Linked DNA regions of Homo sapiens: region 1 is linked to region 2. The links come from fine-mapping of genetic effects on gene expression. Tissue or cell type: lymphoblastoid cells. Region 2 holds a variant in brackets; the other region holds the start of a gene. All regions are shown on one strand. Distances are between the middles of the regions.

The links. PIP is the estimated chance that this variant, and not a neighbour inherited with it, causes the effect.
Region 1: it holds the start of MCUR1, and the variant in region 2 is fine-mapped to the expression of MCUR1 in lymphoblastoid cells (GTEx, PIP above 0.99).

Annotation. Positions count from the first base shown.
Region 1 is chr6:13,810,663-13,820,263 of GRCh38, forward strand. MCUR1 (mitochondrial calcium uniporter regulator 1) reads right to left here and starts at 3,895. Exons shown (of 9, transcript NM_001031713.4): 1 at 3,353-3,895. The coding sequence starts at 3,767. LOC107986571 (a long non-coding RNA gene) reads left to right here and starts at 3,148. Exons shown (of 2, transcript XR_001743986.3): 1 at 3,148-3,427. RefSeq lists silencers at 3,083-3,752, 3,833-4,102 and an enhancer at 4,263-4,362.
Region 2 is chr6:13,781,998-13,791,598 of GRCh38, forward strand. MCUR1 (mitochondrial calcium uniporter regulator 1) reads right to left here. Exons shown (of 9, transcript NM_001031713.4): 9 at 4,560-8,867. The coding sequence ends at 8,812. Among named protein-coding and RNA genes, the nearest start is that of MCUR1, 28 kb to the right of the region's middle. RefSeq lists an enhancer at 5,655-6,487 and a silencer at 7,156-7,324. The variant A/C (reference allele first, on the strand shown) is at 4,855.

The DNA.
Region 1 (9,601 bases), 29 kb after region 2:
TTGCTGCAGCCTATGGGAGTTGTTCCCAGCCTACTCACAGCTTGGGAAGGGGAGGGTAGCTGTGGTCACTGTAAGCATCCAGATGAGTGCAAGAGATGCAATAATCCATATCTGTATCAAGAACCATTTGCAGACTGACACAATATAAAGTGCAATGACTTATGTGTGTTTGTGTTTGTTGGTAAAACTGGGCCCTGAGATTCAAAGAACCACTGTGCTATGACAGGAGGTCCTTGACCTGGCATACAAAGCCCTTGCTATTTATGACCACGCTTATCCTTTCAGCTTTCTTTCTAGCAACCTAAGCTATTCTATTTCCTGCAATTGCATGCTTAAGCATGGCTTGCTCCCCTTTCCCAATCGTTAAACTTTAAGCATTCTTTTTACCCTTCTTCATTAAATTGCCAATTTACTGAGTATACATTATGTTCCAGGTGTGGCATTTTCTTTTTTACACTTTATGGTTCTCTCTGCTTCCTCCACCCAGCTAAGGGAGCAACCTTTATTGAGCCCATACCTGTGTTCTCAGCTCAGTACAGATAGCTCATCGTAGCACTTACTACATTATTTCCTCATCTGTATCATCTATTTGTCCAAGCTGCCCAGGAGCAGCCAGTCTTGCTCATTTTTTATCTTTAGCATCTGGCAAGGGGCCTGGCATACAGCAGGCTAGGAATAATTTTTTTTTTTTGGTAATTGAACTGTAATGACTTCTACAATCTGGATTATGAAACTGTCTAGAGGGAAAATTTGAGATGAATTCCTTTCTCCTCAGTTCTTCCCTTTTCACATAAACGAGCTCACTTAAATCTGGTACCTCTTTTTTAGTTTATTTCCAGTCCTGAGACTAAAACTGGCCTCCATGAGAAGAGACCCAGGATGTCTGCCCAACACAGAAGAGACCTAGCCTGAGAAACAGTGGGAGTGAAGGAATGAAAGCACTTCTCCAGGGGACCTCCTAAGGACCACCTCACCTGCCCCAGAACTCTACTGGACTGCCCCATGTGTCAGGGAGCTCGAAAACACCTGAGTCTGGAATGACTTGTGAAGAGTGACAGGGTTACTCTAGACCTAAATTCCTTGTTTCTAGTAAGAAAATAATCATTCATGTATTTAAAACATAACCTCCTCACCCCCACCCCCACATAAACAAAACAATCACATGACTACTTTGTAACGCCAATTTGGATACTACAGTTTTTTTGTTATTGTTGTTCTTTTTCAAAAAGATTGGAACCAGAAACAGCAAGCTTATTTCCAAGAAATCCTGCCTCTGAAAGGTCGACAGAAGGGCTGGCCACTTTCCATTGGTCACTCCAACCCCTGATGAGGGAAGGAAATGCCCTCTTGGCCTTCTGTCAAAGGGCAGTACCTGAGGACACCGCCAACTCCCAGACTCCTCACTGATCATAAGGAAGCGAGCCAACTGAGCTGTGTCAACGTGTAACATGCAATTCCCCTTTCTGGGGACCTTCAGCATATCAAGAGAATATTAAAAACCCACAATTACAATAGAGGCCCAAAGGTAGCCTTGGACAGGATGAGGAAACCAAATACAAACTTCCTACTCATGACATCCTTAAGTAGCTCAACCGAGAACCTCAGGCACCAAGCAAACAAATGGTTGGGAAACGCTCATTGGCTGGTTAATGGGCATACATGCTTCCTTAACTGTGTCTCTGCTCTCTTCTGTTTTTATGCATCCATACTCATTTTTTATGATGACTGAAGAATGAGATAGCTGACACTAAAACAACAGTACCACCTTACCGATTGGTCAGCAAATCCGTGAGAAAGAACACTCTCTTTTTGCCCTATACTCTTGCATTGAGAGAAAAACAAATTGGAAATTACTAGCTTGTCAGAAAAAGCGCAACAAAAGGCAAAATACAGAATAAAGACCAAACTCATCTCCGACTCCTAATTACTGAAGGACAGTGACACCGAGTTCACTACTCATTCCCCACTCTCTGTATATAAAGTTTCCTTCACTTTATTGCTCTACTAATCAGTTTTTACCCCAGCCAATGATATTCTTAAATTATAGATATGGTCAACATTTAGTGGGCCTATCTGTTGAAGAAAATATGAAAAATGTGTAGTTAGTGATGGCTACTAATGAATATGTATAGACTGCCCAAAGTGATAATTTTGCCAAGTCTGTTGATTATCAGAAATGATTTTTTTCTTTAATCAACAATATGCTATCTAATAAATTGATTCTATTTACTTTCCTCATCTCCAGGGCAGTGATCTCTCTCACCTCCTTTAAATAGTCATGAGCCCCACAACTACCTTTCAGCCCAGGACAGAGGGGCACACACGACAGTGGTCTATGAGACTATAATACATATTTTTACTCTACCTTTTCTACATTTAGATGCGCAAATACCATTGTGTTCAGATTGCCTCTAGTATTCAGTACGGTAACATGCTGTTCAGGTTTGTAGCCTAGGAGCACTAGCCTCTACCTGATAGTCTAGGTGTGTAGTAGGCTGTAGCATCCAGGTTTGTGTAAGCACACTCTACAATATTCACACAAGGAAGAAGTCGCCTAATGACTCATTTCTCAGTAGGCGACTGTCCTGAAGAGATGCATGACTCTAATTAAATGCTACCTTCTCAATGAAATCGATTCTGATCACCCTATTTAAATTCACAACTGGAGACCCATTCCACTTCCCAAGCCTTATCCTATTTTTCTATACCAGGCATCGAATTACGAATATATAAAAATTATTTGTATATATAAATTATATATACATCAATTATGCATACGTATATCCACACACACATATTTACTGCGTCTGCTCTGCTAGAATTAAGCTCCAGAGGGAAGATTTTGTGGACTGATATATCTCACACATCTAGAAAAGCGCCAGGGACAGGGCAGACGCTAGGACTCCACGAATTAATGATTCCATCAGAATTTGAAATCAAACTGTAAAGCAATCCCTTCATTTCCCAGAGCTTTGCTGCTCAAACATACACACCCCTTCCCCTTGAACGCCCAACAGGCTGGGCGCTGCCAAACAGAACTCCTGGAAGGCGGCGCCCAAAAGCAGACCCTAGGAGTGGGCGGGCACCAACTCCCCGCCCCAGCACGCACCTCCCTCCAACTTTAGCGCCCGGGATTCCCAGGAATTCGTCTCTTCTGGGCTAAGCCCCGCCACCGCGGCCGAGCAGGGCGGGCCCGGACCTTCGACCCACGCTCCGGGCAGATGCCGGTGGCCTTGGAGGACCCGCCCTCCGGCCTGCCGGGCCTTTCCTCGGGGAGGCTGTAGCTGAGATCCCCGCCCCGCCGTCCAACCCCGCGAGACGAGCCCCCTCTCCTCTCCCGCCCGGGCCTCACCTCTCCTGCAGGAAACGAGTGCAGGCGCCGGGCCGTGGTACTGGGGAAGGGCGCCGGCGGCAGCGGCGACGCCCGGTGAGCACCTCCACGCGCTGCTGCGCCCGGCCGGGGGTGCGGCATACCCGAGGCGCGAGCGCTCCCAGTCCCCGAGCTGCCGGCGCGGGGCTGCGGCGGCCAAGCGCGGGGAGGGCACTAGCAGGAGGAGGAGCAGCGGTGAGGCACGTGACACGCCGCCGCGGGCCGCCGGGGCGCGAGGGCGCAGCGCCCCCAGACCGTCGGAGAGCGCAGAGAGGCAGCGGCGTGCTGAGGTTTCGCTGCCGCCCGGTCTTCCGCTGAGGCCCACGGGCAAGAAGAGAAGCCGCTGGCGGCCGGGCAGGCGCTGGGTCCTCTGGCCGCCGACCGAGCCGCAGTCCATCCCCGAGCAGTTCACTGGCCCGGGCGCGCGCTCATGCCTCTCGCTTTTGGCGCCGGCCACGCGCGGTCCAGGCCCAGAGTCCGACAGCGGGAGCGAGCGTGGGCCACAGCGCAGGACCGCCCTTTCCTGCCGGGCGCGCGGGCGGGGCTCGGGACGCGCGCCGGGGGTGGGGTGGGGCGGGGCGGCAGGAGCCCGCCGTGGCGCTCCGAGATGCGGGGACCGTGCGAGCCCCCACCCCATTCGCTAGGCGACGGCGGCGACCGGGAGGAGCCTGCGGGCACTCCGGAACTGGAAGGAGCTTGTTGCTGTCACGATTTGCATTTTCACTGCACTGCTGTCCTTAAAAAGGAATTACCCCGGTGCCCTTCAGAGTCCTGTGAAAAGTCTCAGACCGACAGGCTGCCCTAGATTTCACTGATTATCCTAAGTCCCCAAACATGTGGTTCTGGGGAGCATTTTAAGGAATTATTAGCAGGGCCCAGGGAAAGGCCCTCACATAATACATTCAAAACTAAATTTTCAGAGTTTTTGTTTCCAGATTAGAGCACCAAAAACATGGGAAGGTAGCAATCTGGGAACTTAAAACGTGGGGCATGAATGTTAAAATGAGACCTGTCGGGTATATTTGAAACTGGTAATGTTTAGTTTCGTGGACTTTTTGAAGGCCTGTTACACCATTCACAGATAACTGGTCCCTTATGTGAATTTGGAAGATGTTAGTTGAATAAATAAATGAAATGCATAAGGCACCAAGCTAGGAGATTTTATTAAAAATAAAAAACCGCAAAACAAATTGTTCTTATCCTCCAGAAGCTGTTTTCCTATACAGCCATATGTGTACACATACGTGATGGAAGAATGTGTTATGAGCCATGAGAGATGTACAAAGTGCTGGGAAGAGAGGAGCGTGCATATGGATGTGCAAGATAAGTGTCTATCAAAATTTGAAGAACTGAAAAACAGGATTCAAGTCATAGGTTGGTGCAAAAGTAGTTGCGGCTTTTGCCATTGCAAGTAATGGCAAAAACCGCAATTACTTTTGCACCAACCTAAGACACTTTTGTAAAAGGAGTATACATTTATAAAATTGGTAGAAAAAGCAGTTTAGCAATGAGTATCAACAAAAATTTGTAAACTTTTCTCAAGTCACCTAACTAAAAATGGGGATAATGGGAATAATCCAAAATATTAAATATCTACTAGGTTTGACTATACAAACTTGTCATTTTTATGGGTCAAAATGCTTAATATTGGTAATTTCACATATGCACAAAAGATAGTCATTGTATCATAATTTGTGATTGTGAAAAAATGGGAAAATAGTGCACAACATTAGAGGAACGATTAAACTGTGGCACAAACTTTAATGTTAGTCCTTTGTAATTTTTAAAAATTGAGGTATAATTTGCATACAGTAAATTCCACAGACTTAGGTGACATTTAGCAGTTGATAAATGTCATTTAGCAACTTGATGACATTTAGCAGTTGTATATACCACCCAGTCAAGATCTAGAACATTTTCATTGCTCCAGAAAGTTATTTTGTGCCAGTTTTCCAGACAATCCACCACCACCCCAAGGCAACTATTTTCTCTTTTTTTTTTTGAGACGGAGTCTTGCTCTGTCACCCAGGCTGGAGTGCAGTGGTGCAGTCTCAGCTCACTGTGTCCTCTGCCTCCCGGGTTCAAGCAATTCTCCTGCCTCAGCCTCCTGAGTAGCTGGGATTACAGGTGTCTGCCACCACGCCTGGCTAATTTTTGTATTTTTAGTAGAGACGGGGTTTCACCATATTGGCCAAGCTGGTCTCGAACTCCTCACCTTGTGATCTGCCCGCCTCGGCCTCCCAACGTGCTAGGATTACAGGCGTGAGCCACCGCGCCCGGCCAACTATTTTCAAATTTCAATGACCATAGATTAGTTTTGTCTTTTTTTGAACTTCATGTAAATGGAGACCTACAATATGCATTGCCTTGTGTCTTTCTTCTGCTTTGCGTCTGACTTCAATATCAATGAGATTCATCCATGCTGTTGTATCAGTAATTAGTTGCTTTTAATTGTTGAATAGTATTCCATTGTATGACCATACCACAAGCGGTCATCCATTCTATTAATGGCCATTTGCTTTGCTTATAGTTTTTGGCTATTATGCATAGGGCGTTATGAACATTCTTGTATAAGACCTTGTGTGGACATAATTTTTATCCCTGTTGGGGAAAGTATCTGGGTCAAATTGCTGAATCATATGGTAGCTTAACTTTAGACACTGCTGAATTGTTTTTCCAAAGCGACTGCACCCTTTCACACTCTTAGCAATAGATGAGCGTTTCGGTTGTTCCACATCCTTGCCAAATTTTGATATTTTCAGTCCTCATAAAATGGTACCTTATTGTGATTTTTAACATAACATTTCCCTGATGCCTAATGATGTTGACTAACTTTTCATGTATTACTATTACCAGCCATATTGAATACAATAACATATGTAAAGCACTTAGCACAGTGCCTGGCCTATGATAGGAGTATAATGAATGTCAGTTCTAACTACAGGTTGGATAGCATCCACTTTTCCTTGGATGTGACACCTGTTGTTTTATTTTCCAAAGCATTCCCTTTCTTTTGGTCTCAGCACCCTAGTTTTCCATGGGCAGTGGCTCTTCTCTGCTCTCAGTCCATGCGGTTTGGAGAGACTGATCGCTCTGCAGACCACAGGCATGGGCATGTCACCCAATCAGAGTTAATGAGCAGCCGGGCGCGGTGGCTCACGCCTGTAATCCCAGCACTTTGGGAGGCCAAGGAGGGCGGATCACTTGAGGTCGGGAGTTGGAGACCAGTCTAGAGAAACCCCGTCTCTACTAAAAATACAAAATTAGCTGGGTGTGGTGGCACATGCCTGTAATCCCCGCTACTTGGGAGGCTGAGACAGGAGGACTGCTTGAACCCAGGAGGTGGAGGTTGCGGTGAGCTGAGATTGCACCATTGCACTCCAGCCTGGGCAACAAGAGTGAAATTCCATCTAAAAAAAAAAAGCTTCAATTCTAGGATTCTTTTTTTGTTTGTTTATTTGAGATGGAGTCTCACTCTGTTGCCCAGGCTGGAGTGTGGTGGCTCAATCTTGGCTCATTGCAACCTCCACCTCCTGGGTTCAAGCGATTCTCCTGTCTCAGCCTCCCACGTAACTGGGATTACAAGCAAGCACCACCATGCCCAGCTAATTTTTGTATTTTTTAGTAGAGACGGGGTTTCACCATGTTGGCCAGGCTAGTCTCAAACTCCTGACCTCAAGTGACCTGCCTGCCTCAGCCTCCCAAATTGCTGGGATTACACGTGTGAGCCACCACGCCTGGCCCAATTCTAGGGTTCTTAATAGGAACTATTGGGAAGAGGTCGTCTTATTTTATTGTGATGTCTAGGTATAGGATGATTTGAACCATGAGCTCCTGGGGCTACCATGTGGCCTAAGACTAAAGCCCTTATGAAGAAAAGAAGACTGAGAAATGAAGAGACGGGTCCTTTTGAGCGTCTGATTCTAGCTTAGGCTGAAATTGGCATTTTATTTATGTAATCCAATAAGTTGCTTTTACTTAAACCAGCTGGGATAGGGCTTCTGATTCCTATCCCGGATACATTAGTGTACATTAGGATAATCTAGACATGTTAGACTTCTGTCTATGTATAGAGAGACTAGATACAGGAATCTAATGGCCAATGAAGAAGAAGAAGTATCAACTAATTAATGGATCAGGCAGGAGCCAGACAACCCCCATGTGAACCATGACAAAGTTGGACTTTATGACAAAGTTGGATTGGTGAATATACTTGGATCTGGGGCCAAAGTGGGGCCATCTTACTCTCTCTCTGTATCTAGACTTAGGGACCTCCCATGAGTAAAGCTGGATTCACAGAGCAGACTCTGACTTAGCCACCATCTGTGAGAAGTTTAGGTGGCCTTATATATTCTAGGTGTCATCAGGAGAAAAGAGATGGAAGATGGCCAGAGCTATCCCTGAAAGATCTACTGGGTCTGTTTTAGCAGGTAGTAACAGAAAGGTCAAGGGCTCATTGTCCCCGGTGCAAGCAGGTCAAAGAGAGAACAAAGGAGTTGGAACATTCCTGGATGTGACCTTTAGCATACTGATACTCTTACTAGTAAACACTGATGGGGGAATGTCAACTTCCACTAATCAAACTACTATTCTCCGTAATTGAAGAGTGTTAAAGGGTGAAGAAAGGATTCTCCTTCTGGGTAAAATGGAATAAGCACACTCCACCCTGTCTTTCCACCTGAATGCAGGCATAAAAGCTGGACAGAATGCATAGAGCCACTATTTGAGGACTCTGAAAAGTAAATAATAGCAGGCACATCAGTGAAGAAGACAAAAATCAAAGTACCACTGAACTGATGTTTAGTTTAGTATTTTTTCCAATGTATGAGCTCCCCTAGCTTGAACTGTCAACCCATAGTTCTATTACTAGCAAAAATATCCTTCAGTAATGAAGTGATGAAATAAAGACATCCTCAGATGAAGGAAAACTAAGAGGAGTTGTTTTTAGTAAGCTTGCACTAAAAGAATTGCTAAAGGAAATTCACCATATAGTAGGGAAATGATACCAAAAGGAAACTTGGAGCATTAGGAATAAAGGAAGAGCAACAGAAATGGCAAATACCAAGATAAGTATAATATTCTTCTCCTCTTTAGTTCTTTAAAATATGTTAAATGATAGAAAGCAAAAATTCAAACAATGGTGAAGTTTTTAATGTTTATAGATGTGGTATATAATAACTACAAAATAAAAGGGCAAGGATAAAGAGACCTATATGGTAGTGAAGTTTTCATATTGCACTTACAGTGGTAAAATACTGATTCTAAGTAGAGTTAGAAAAAGTTAAATATGTCTACTGTAATCCCTAGAGCAACCCATAAAGATACTGTACAAAGAGATATAGGTTGGGCACAGAGGCTCATGCCTGTAATCCCAATACTTTGGGAGGCTGAGGTGGGAGGATGGCTTGAGGTCAGGAATTCAAGACTAGCCTAGGAAACATAGTGAGACCCCACCTCTACAAAAAAAAAAAAAAAAAAAAAAAAAAGAAAGCCAGACATGGTGGTGAATGCTTATAGTCCTAGCTACTCAGGGGGCTGAGGTGGGAGAATCACTTGAGCCCAAGAGTTTGAGGCTGCAGTGAGCTATGATCAAGTCAAAACACATAATAGATAAAATGTAATATTAAAAAATGTTCAAGTAACCCAAAAGGAGATAGGAAAGGAGAAATAGAAGAACAAAAAACAGAGATAAAAACTAAAAGCAAACAATAAAATATTAGGCATCAATCTAAACATATCAATAATTACATTAAGTGTAAATGGTCTAAATCAGTGGTTGAGGAATGTTTTTAAAAAGCCATATAGTAAATATTCGGCTTTGTGAACCATAAGCAATCTCTTTTACATATTGTTCTGTTCAAAAACAGGTGGTGGGTTGGATTTGGCCCATGGGCCATAGTTGGCCAACCTTTGGTCTCAACATGCCAATTAAAACAGAGAGAATGTCAGAATGGATTAAAAAAAGAAGAAAGCACAGCCTAGTTATATACTGCCTACAAGACACTCACATCAGTTATAATAATATACGTAGGTCAAAAGTCAAGGATGAGGAAACGAGGATGCTCCTCAGGAGGTGAAAGTCTTGATAAAAGTTTTTTCTAATGTGTACTAAGATGGGAAATTGAGAGAAATAGAAGGGATTCTCCCTGATCCTTTCTCTTCCCTTGTATGAAAGTCAGACTCCTGATAACATCTGCATTTAAGAACATAGCCCTGAAACTGGAAGTAAAG
Region 2 (9,601 bases):
CCAGCCTGGAGTGCAGTGGCATGATTTCAGCTCACTGTAACCTCCGCCCCCTGGCTTCAGCCCCCCGAGTAGCTGGGATTACAGGTGCATGCCACCACGCCTGGCTAATTTTTGTATTTTTAGTAGAGACGGGGTTTCTCCATGTTGAACAGGCTGGTGTCGAACTCCTGACCTCAGGTGATCCACCCCTTGCCTTCCCAAAGTGCTGGGATTACAGGCGTAAGCCACCGTGCTGGCCGTGGATTTTTTGGTTAACTTTTTTTTTTTTCCCCTCAAGCATCTGAGTTAATCCAGAACTATAGTGGGGTCCTAGAAACTAGCCATAACATTAAAAAAAGTAATTTAAGATTCGGTAGAGAGCTGGTAAAATTATGTGAAACAGAATGAACCGAAATTACCACATGACACTGGAAATCAAAGGAGGGGACATTCTGCAGTATTTCTAGCTACTAAGCGATGGCAACTTAACACTCGCTGTATGGTTCTCTTCAGTTTGCAGCCTGTGTTTTATTTTTGTGAACCTGGTAACCAATGCTGATGAATGCCCATCCGAAAACCACTTCCAACTTCTTCTTCCTTGTCCACCTCCTACCAGAGGAGCGGAAAAAGCTAAAAATTCCATTTTGCAACCAGTCTGTGTGACCCAATCCTGTTCTAAGAGACACGCGGGGGTTCCTGTGGCAGGGAAGATTCTGGAAAAGATTTTTCTCCCTGATTTAAAGGAGAGAGACACATGAGAAGGGCCCTTTCGCACCTCCCTCCCTTCTTGATAGCACCCTCCTCTGGGTGCTATCGTGAGGATGTGATGCCTGGAGCGGTGGTAGCCCCCTTGAGATCAGATAAACCCCCAGCCTGAAGCTGAAAGCTGACACGTATAGGAAGGTAAGAAAGGAAAGACCAAAGGAGCTCCAATCCTTGTAGGCACTGTTGAGCTGCCAATCCAACCCTGAGGATCACCCATTTTAGATTTAAGAAACAGAAGTTCTTAGGTGTAAGCCACTGCTCATTTCACATTAACTGCAGTTGACAGCATCCACGGGATACAAATGTCAACAAAATACATGTAAGCGTTTTCATGAGGTCACTGTGTATCTTGATCCTCCAGGCCTCCATCTTTTCCTCACGAAGTCTGTTCAAATTTTCACAGAGATTCTTTTTTGTTTTGAGACAGAGTCTCACACTATTGCCTGGGCTGGAGTGCAACGGCATAATCTCTGCTCACTGCAACCTCTGCCTCCCGGGTTCAAGTGATTCTCCTGCCTCAGCCTCCCGAGTAGCTGGGATTACAGGCACCTGCCACCATGCCTGGCTTATTTTTTTGTATTTTTTAGTAGAGACGGGGTTTCACTATGTTGGCCAGGCTGGTCTTGAACTCCTGACCCTGTGATCCACCCACCTCAGCCTCCCAAAGAGTTGGGATTACAGGCATGAGCCACTGCGCCCGGCCTCACAGAGATTCTTGAGGTTAGAGAGAGACACTCTCTATTACAGCGCCCCTCAGAAGGCTGTGAGGTTCATGCACTCCATAAAATACTACACAAATGTAAAAGACAAATAGTAGCAAAATACTTCTGTGTTAGGAAAAGACACTGACTTTCATGCTGTAGGGGACAAGATGCTATGAAGCAACTGTGTCTTTTCCACTGGGGGAATGAACACTGTGAAGCCTGGAGGTGGCGGAGCAAGAAGTATTTTTAAAACCTTTGTTGTTAAGACGTTAACTGCAGAAATGCCACACTAAGCTGAAACCGGGAGTGCCTCTTCCTGGCTTTAACATTAAGCTGACCTGAACCTTCAGAATCATGGACAACCAATCAGAGTTTACCGAAACATAGAGTATGTGCAAAACAAAAAACAAACAAACAAACAAACAAAAAAATTAGTTTAAACTGAAAGGGCAAGTTGGGACCTTATAAAATGCCTACATGTTTCAACTACTCATTGCGGAAGGTGTTGCCTAAAAATACTTATCTGCAGATTTGTGATATATAAAAGAAGACCAAAATCTCACTGATCTCTATTTAAGGATGCTGATGCTTACACCTTGGTGGCTGACAGTGGCCACCCTCTGCAGTGTCCCAAAGGCCACCCTCCTTGGGTCCTTGGCAAGAACCTCCTACAGAAACTGCCGAGTTAAGGTGGAGACAAAATGGGCAGCGGAACAACTGGAGGAGATCTGCTGTGGGATGCCAGAGAGAAAGCTGTTTCTAGAAAATGCCTTTAAGACAATCTTCTTAGTTTTAAAGAAATCAGCCAGGCGCGGTGGCTCACGCCTGTAATCCTAGCACTTTGGGAGGCCGAGGTGGGTAGATCACCTGAGGTCAGGAGTTAGAGACCAGCCTGGCCAACATGGTGAAACCCCGTCTTTACTAAAAATACAAAATAATTAGCTGGGCGTGGTGGCGGGCACTTGTAATCCCAGTTACTCAGGAGGCTGAGGCAGGAGAATCGCTTGAATCCAGGAGGCAGAGGTTGTAGTGAGCCGAGATGGCGCCATTGTACGCCAGCCTGGGCGACAGAGCGAGACTCCGTCTCAAAAAAAAAAAAAAAAGAAAAAGAAATCATGGCTATGAGTGGTGGCTCACGCCTCTAATCTCAGCACTTTGGGAGGCTGAGGTGGGCGGATTACTTGAGGTCAGGAGTTCATGACCAGCCTGGCCAACATGGTGAAACTCCGTCTCTACAAAAAATACAAAAATTAGCCGGACGTGGTGGCAGGCGCCTGTAATCCCAGCTACTTGGGAGACTGAGGCAGAATTGCCTGAACCCGAGAGGCAGAGGTTGCAGTGAGCCGAGATCACAACACTGCACTCCAGCCTGGGCGACAAGAGCAAAACTCCATCTCAAAAAAAAAAAAAAAAAAAGGAAAAGAAAAAGAAATAAAAAACTCAAGGCAAAGAAAAGGTTTTTAGTTTGTTCCCCTACCACTGATGTGAAATGGGGACCTAGGGGAGATGTGGAAGGATGACTAAAATCTAACACATTGCCCACCATTTTTGAACTTGAAGGTTGAGTTTGCAAATCATTTACCGCCTTTGCCTACCTCATCTGCTAGTTGCCTTCTGGAAATTTTGCAGTTCCCCCTCAAGTCTAGTTATTTGATTCTAACTTTGGTACAAGATTTCTGGTTGGAGAAAATGAGATGTAACTGAAATTTCCAGGCTACCATTCATTCATTCACTTTAGATACAGGGTCTTGCTTTGTGGTCCAGGTTAGTCTCGAACTCCTGGCCTCAAGTGATCCTCCTGCCTTGGCCTCCCAAAGAGCTGGGATTACAGATGTGAGCCACCGTGCCCAGACCTGTATTTCATTTACCCCCTTTTCTGAGATGTTCCTTTCCTCTCCTCCTGAGCAGGTATTAATTACACTGAAGATCAACCCACACAGGCTGACTCAAGAAGAGCTCAATTTTTTGGAGGTGGGGAATTTGCTCAACAGGCCCTCAGGGAAGGTGAAGTGTGCATCCCTCTGAGGACCCTTCTGCTTCCTGTGACCCCAGCTGCTTGCTTTAGATATTTCCTTCCCAAGATTTTTCAGGGTGGAGCTCACTAATCATTAAGCTGTAAGGGGATGTACTGGGTGTTTCCTGCAGACACACAGGCTCTCTGTGCTTGAAGAAGTAGGTCTAGGAGGATTATGCCCTCCAGAGAAGAAGCAAAGGTAAGAGGTGCAGAGGGGAGTTCTCACAATGGCATTTTTTTGGTCCTTCCTGAACCTTGGTTACATAAGCCAAAAAAGGATATTCTTTTTTCTGCTCAAGCTAGCCTGATTTGGATTTCCATGAATCCTTATAGCTATTTTTATTTTATTTTGAGACAGGGTCTGGCTCTGTCACCCAGGCTGGAGTGCAGTGGCACAACCACAGCTCACTGCAGCCTCTACCTCCTGGGCTCAAGCCATCCTCCCATCTCAGCCTCCTGAGTAGCTAGGACTACAGGTGTGTGCCACCACATCCGGCTAATTTTTCTATTTTCTGTAGAGACAGGGTTTCACCATGTTAGCCAGGCTGGTCTCGAACTCCAGGACTCAAGTGACCCACCCGCCTTGGCCTCTCACAGTACTGGGATTACAGACAAGACCAACCGTGCCCGGCCAGATATTTTTTAAAATTGTGTATTTCTCAGCCAGGTGCAGTGGCTCATGCCTGTAGTACCAGCACTTGGGAGGCTGAGGCAGGAGGATGGCTTAAGCCTAGAAGTTTGAGACCAGCCTGGGCAACATAGTGAGACACCATCTCTGCAAAGAATAGAAAAAAAATTAGCTGGGTGTGGTGGCGCATGCCCGTGGTCCCAGCTACTTGGGTCCCAGGCTGAGGTGGGAGGATCGCTTGAGCCTGGGAGGTCGAGGCTGCCATGAGCAGTGACTGCGCCAATGCACTCCATCCAGCCTAGGCAATAGTAGTATCTTGTCTCAAAAGAAAAAAAAAAAAGAAAATTGTCTATTTCTAAAAACCTGTATTTAAACCTCATCATTTCCCCTCAAACAAGTAGCTTGTATAAAATTACTCATAACATGAACATGCTAAAGAAATTCTTTTGAATGATGAAAAGTTACTTTGTACATTATATTAAAATTTATTTTCTATGTATACCCAAATTTTCAAGTATTAGATTTACTTAGAAATTCACCAGTGTTATCATTATACAATTGGCTGGAATTAACAGTTGCAATACAGTTATTCTAGCTTTTCATATTCAATTTGAATGATCAGAAAAGTATATTAGTCACACAGAATTAAATATTTTAGATAGTAAGAATCTTACACTTTATTAGATAATAAAACATAATTGATATTTGCTTAAGTAACAAAAAAGTTAAGAAATTGGGTTATAAGCAAAGGAACATAAGTGTAA[A/C]ATGTGTAGAAAGATAAATATTTTCCAAATAAAATTCTAATAAAAGGCTAAACATTCTCAAATATTTTACATACATGAAGAATAAATTATTTCTGGTTAACATGTTTTTGCCTTAGTGCCAAAAAAGCCAGAACAAATTTGATAAGCTCACATTAAAATCAAAGTTTTCTAGATATGAATTCTATATACCATCTCTATATTTGTTTAGAATTTTGCAAAATTCTTAGAAGATTGCATGTTAGGGTGGGGGAAGATAAATGCTTGCCAATACTGACATGGTTAATTAACAGACAGGCTTGAAAGGAGAAGGCTAGAAGAGGGAAGATTATGTCACTAAGCATAGCTACAAAAGGAAAAGCCACATGGAAGCAGAGACAAAGGCAATCCCGACACACAGAGGCATGTTTGTTGCGGCTCAGGGTTTCTGTTTTTCAAGTGTTCAGAGACGAATTCCAGCAAGACTTCTGGTTTGAGTCAAGCCTTTCAACCGAGGTGCTTGGCATACTTAACGGAAAAAGCGAGTACATTCAGATTTAGTTTTGCTAGATATTAAACTAGAAAACTGGATGACAGTAAAACCAATACAGAAACAAAAAGTCATGTTTCCAGTAAAGAACCGTACACACAAGCAGGTTTTGCTTATTAATGTAGCAGGAGAGCATGGAAATCGGAGTTCAGACTCTTTAGAAAAGACAAAAGGCAGGGGAGGGGAGAGAAGAAAAGGAGGAATGCAGAGAAGCCCTCCAAGAATGATGAGTGATTCGTGCAGGAGAGGGAAATACAGACGTTCCGTCCATGTGAGATTCTGCTTCAGGTATTGGACATCGTTCCCTCCACCTGCACCTAGAGGATATGTGTTCAGGATCTCGCTATGGTTAGTTACCCATGTGCTAGACATAGGTTGCTAGCTAGAAGTTTTGCCAGCCATCTTCCCCCCTCCTAGTGCTAATGCCTAATTTCCTAAAGTAATCTGAATCCTTATAAGCCAGGGTAGCTCAGGAGGTTCTATTTACTTATTTATTTATTTTGAGACAGAGTCTCACTGTGTCGCCCAGGCAGATCTCGTCTGGGCCCGAGTCTCGTTGCAGTGGTGTAATCTCTGCTCACTGCAACCTCTGCCTCCCAGGTTCATGCAATTTTCCTGTCTCAGCCTCCCGAGTAGCTAGGATTACAGGGGTGTGCCACCACGCCTGGCTAATTTTTCTATTTTTAGTAGCGAGAGCATTTCGTCATGTTGGCCAGTCTGGTCTCCAACTCCTGACCTCAGGTGATCTGCCTGCCTTGGCCTCCCAAAGTGCTGGGATTATAGGCATGAGCCACCGCACCCAGCATCAGTAAGTTTTAATATTACGTCTAGTCGGCTCACGGGTGCTTGAGCCAGAAGTGGGAAGGGTACACTTGTATTTTGGGCTCAAATGGTTTTCAAATAAAATACATCTGACCAAATAAAGTGAACACAGTCCTGAGCCCTCCTCTCTCCAGATATGCATGCAATCCACACCATCAAAAGAAGAGTTCACTGTTCCCAAGGCCAAGAAGAGGCTATGCTGTACTGCAAAGAACTCTATAGCAAAATCGAACACCCAAATTAAGTGCCAGAATGATGCAGCCCGCTCTCACCAGGAAGAACGACATGTGAGAAAACTTATAGCAGATGCAAAAATGTCAACCCACCATGTTATTTAAAAAAAAATTTTATCAGGATACAAGGACACTTCACTGTTTTTAACCCACACAAGGTTAGGTAATGTTTACCTTGAAACATAATCGCATATGGCCCTTTATGCCACTCACCTAGGCCTTTAATAATGAGGGCAATTGCTAAGTGTGCTGTCTCTTCTGGGGACTTCTCTCTGAAAGGGGGATGATATATTGATAAAATATTTTATTAATCAGTTAAGAATTTTTGATCTACTTGAAAAAGATTAAATTATAATATTTCACTTTGAAACTGCTATTGCTCATGCAAAAGTACTTGATTTTCATACTATATGGAGCTCACAATCTTTGGACTACACAAACATTCTCTAAAAGGGCAATGACTTATATTTTCCAAAGTTTAGACATGACATCCAAAGGACAAAAGGTAACTATTTTTTTTACCAATGTGGTTGGAACAGTGACAACGAGCAATGTATTCACCAAACTGATCAAAAAATCTGCCTGTGGTTCCTTCACTGTATGTGTGTGCAGAGAAAGGCAGAAAAGCTTCTATCCATGTCATTGTCTCTCTTGCCCATGTGCCAGTAATTTGAATAAGATGAGAATGGGCCAGGCGCAGCGGCTCACGCCTGTAATCCCACTACTTTGGGAGACCAAGGCGGGTGAATCACGAGGTCAGGAGTTAGAGACCAGCCTGGCCAACATGGTGAAACCTCATCTCTACTAAAAATACAAAAATTAGCTGGGCGTGGTGGTGGGCACCTGTAATCCCAGCTACTCAGGAGACTGAGGCAGGAGAATCGCTTGAACCCAGGAGGCAGAGGTTGCAGTGAGCAGAGATCACGACAATGCACTCCAGCCCTGCGACAGTGCGAGACTCCGTCTCAAAAAAAAAAAAAAGGTGAGAATGTGCTTTTCCAGAATAACCCCAGTTGTATCTAGAATTTGTTTTCAATATAAAGGCAGGTATGAGAATGTTTTGAACAACAGAATTAATCCATCTAGATTAGAATGCTGTGTGGCATGACCATTCTCGAATTTTGAAAGCCTGAGCTGGTTGTGGGCAAGGGGATATTCATTAATGACATAAATTTCATTTATGAAATATGTATCCATCATCTAGGTATCTTATACATGGAGAGCTGACTGCATCCCTTGTATAAAAAGTAAATGAAGACCGGAAGGAAGCAGACTTTGTCCTGCAAACTGAAGCAAAGTTCCATGCTAAGAATCAGCAGGTTTTCTAGGTAGGTAATGCCACCAGTGGAGGATTATTACAGTTCTCAAATCATGAGGGAAAGAGATGGAGAAGAGGGAGGGAGGAGGGAAAATCTTGCATTCTAAGAGGTAAGAGTCCCCATTACAATTGCAATGCTTCTTTAGACAGCTGATTTTTCTGGCTGGAAGGCACATTAAAAATAACCCTAACAATAACTTACCAAGACAATGGAAATCAAAAGAAAAGAAGGTAGACGTGCAGCTGTCTTATTAACATGACAACCAACTACAGCTGAAACAATACTATGGTACAGGGACTAGCTCATGTTAAAGACTGGTTATTTAGGTAAAGAGGATCTGGTGCTCTTGGTTTAGCTTCAGTGATTTTCCAGCACTTATTAAAGCCATTGTGCCCTGAACATGGAGACCCCCAAATCCTCTATGTGCCAAAGATTAAGTTGTAGAGAATTACATCAATGTTTGCTGTTGGTGTGCACCACAGATGAGACCAAGCTTCCTGGTCCGGCTAAGTGGAATCTTCCATGCACTGTGCACCACTCAGCTAGAAAGTCAACTAAGCAGAAAGGAGATAAGGAATGGCTATGGAATACCTGACTTCTTTATCTTGGTTATGTGTCCACAATTTTCATAAAAATAAATAATACACATTAAGTCAAAATCTGGGCTCAAATGTGTAACAAGAAAACAAAAGGACAACAATCTGGTATTCCGGTTTTTTTTTTTTTTTTGAGACGGAGTCTCGCTCTGTTGCCCAGGCTGGAGTGCAGTGACGTGATCTCGGCTCACTACAAGCTCCGCCTCCCAGGTTCACACCTTAGCCTCCCGAGTAGCTGGGACTACAGGCGCCCGCCACCACGCCCGCCTAATGTTTTAATTTTTTAGTAGAGACGGGGTTTCACCGTGTTGGCCAGGCTGGTCTCGAACTCCTGACCTCAGGTAATCCACCTGCCTCAGCCTCCCAAAGTGCTGGAATTACAGGTGTGAGCCACCGCACCCAGCCAACAATCTGGTATTCTTAAGGCAAAACAGTAGAAATCACTTTAAATAGACACTTTATTAGATCCACAGGCGATAAAATCCCAGAGCTACTGTTAGGCACGTAAATATAGACCCTGTAAGAAAAAAACAATTGAGAGTACTATTAGTTCTATTAAGAGTTACTTGAGGGAACATCTTTTTTTAAGAAAACCTAAAAAAGAAAACCTAGAAACTTAGATTGCTCACTGATGTCCCATATTCCGTGAAACGCCTGCCTACTGAAAAAACAAATCCCACACCCTTTATTTTATTTTCTTATTTTAGAGACATGGTCTCATCTGGTACCCAGGAGGAGTGCACCATGCAATGGTATGATTACAGCTCACTGTGCCTCAAACTCCCGGGCTCAAGTGACCCTCCTGCCTCAGCCTCCCAAGAAGCTGAAGCTACAGGCAGATGACACCATGCCCGGCTAAATCTTTTTGTAGAGACTAGGTCTCGCTGTGTTGCCTAGGCTAAGAAAACTTTTCAATAAAAGTTTCGAATAGCAAAAATTCTGTGGTCACAAGGTCTATGTATATGCACTATAGAGACAGGAAGACACAATTTAATATAAAGAACAACATTTCACTGTTAAATAATGCTGTAACCTTAAAATATTTAATTAATCCAAGACGTTAAATCTGACTTGAAATAATGGTTAATTTGGGTGGGGGGTGGTACATGAATGTTCATTCTCTCTTTTGGATCAAAAATCGCGAAAGTAAAATAACTCCTTAAAAGGAGTTTAAGCAATTGAAGCAGAAAGATTACAACTGAAACACCTTCCATTTTATCCATAAAATATTTCCTGTCTTGAATCTCATTA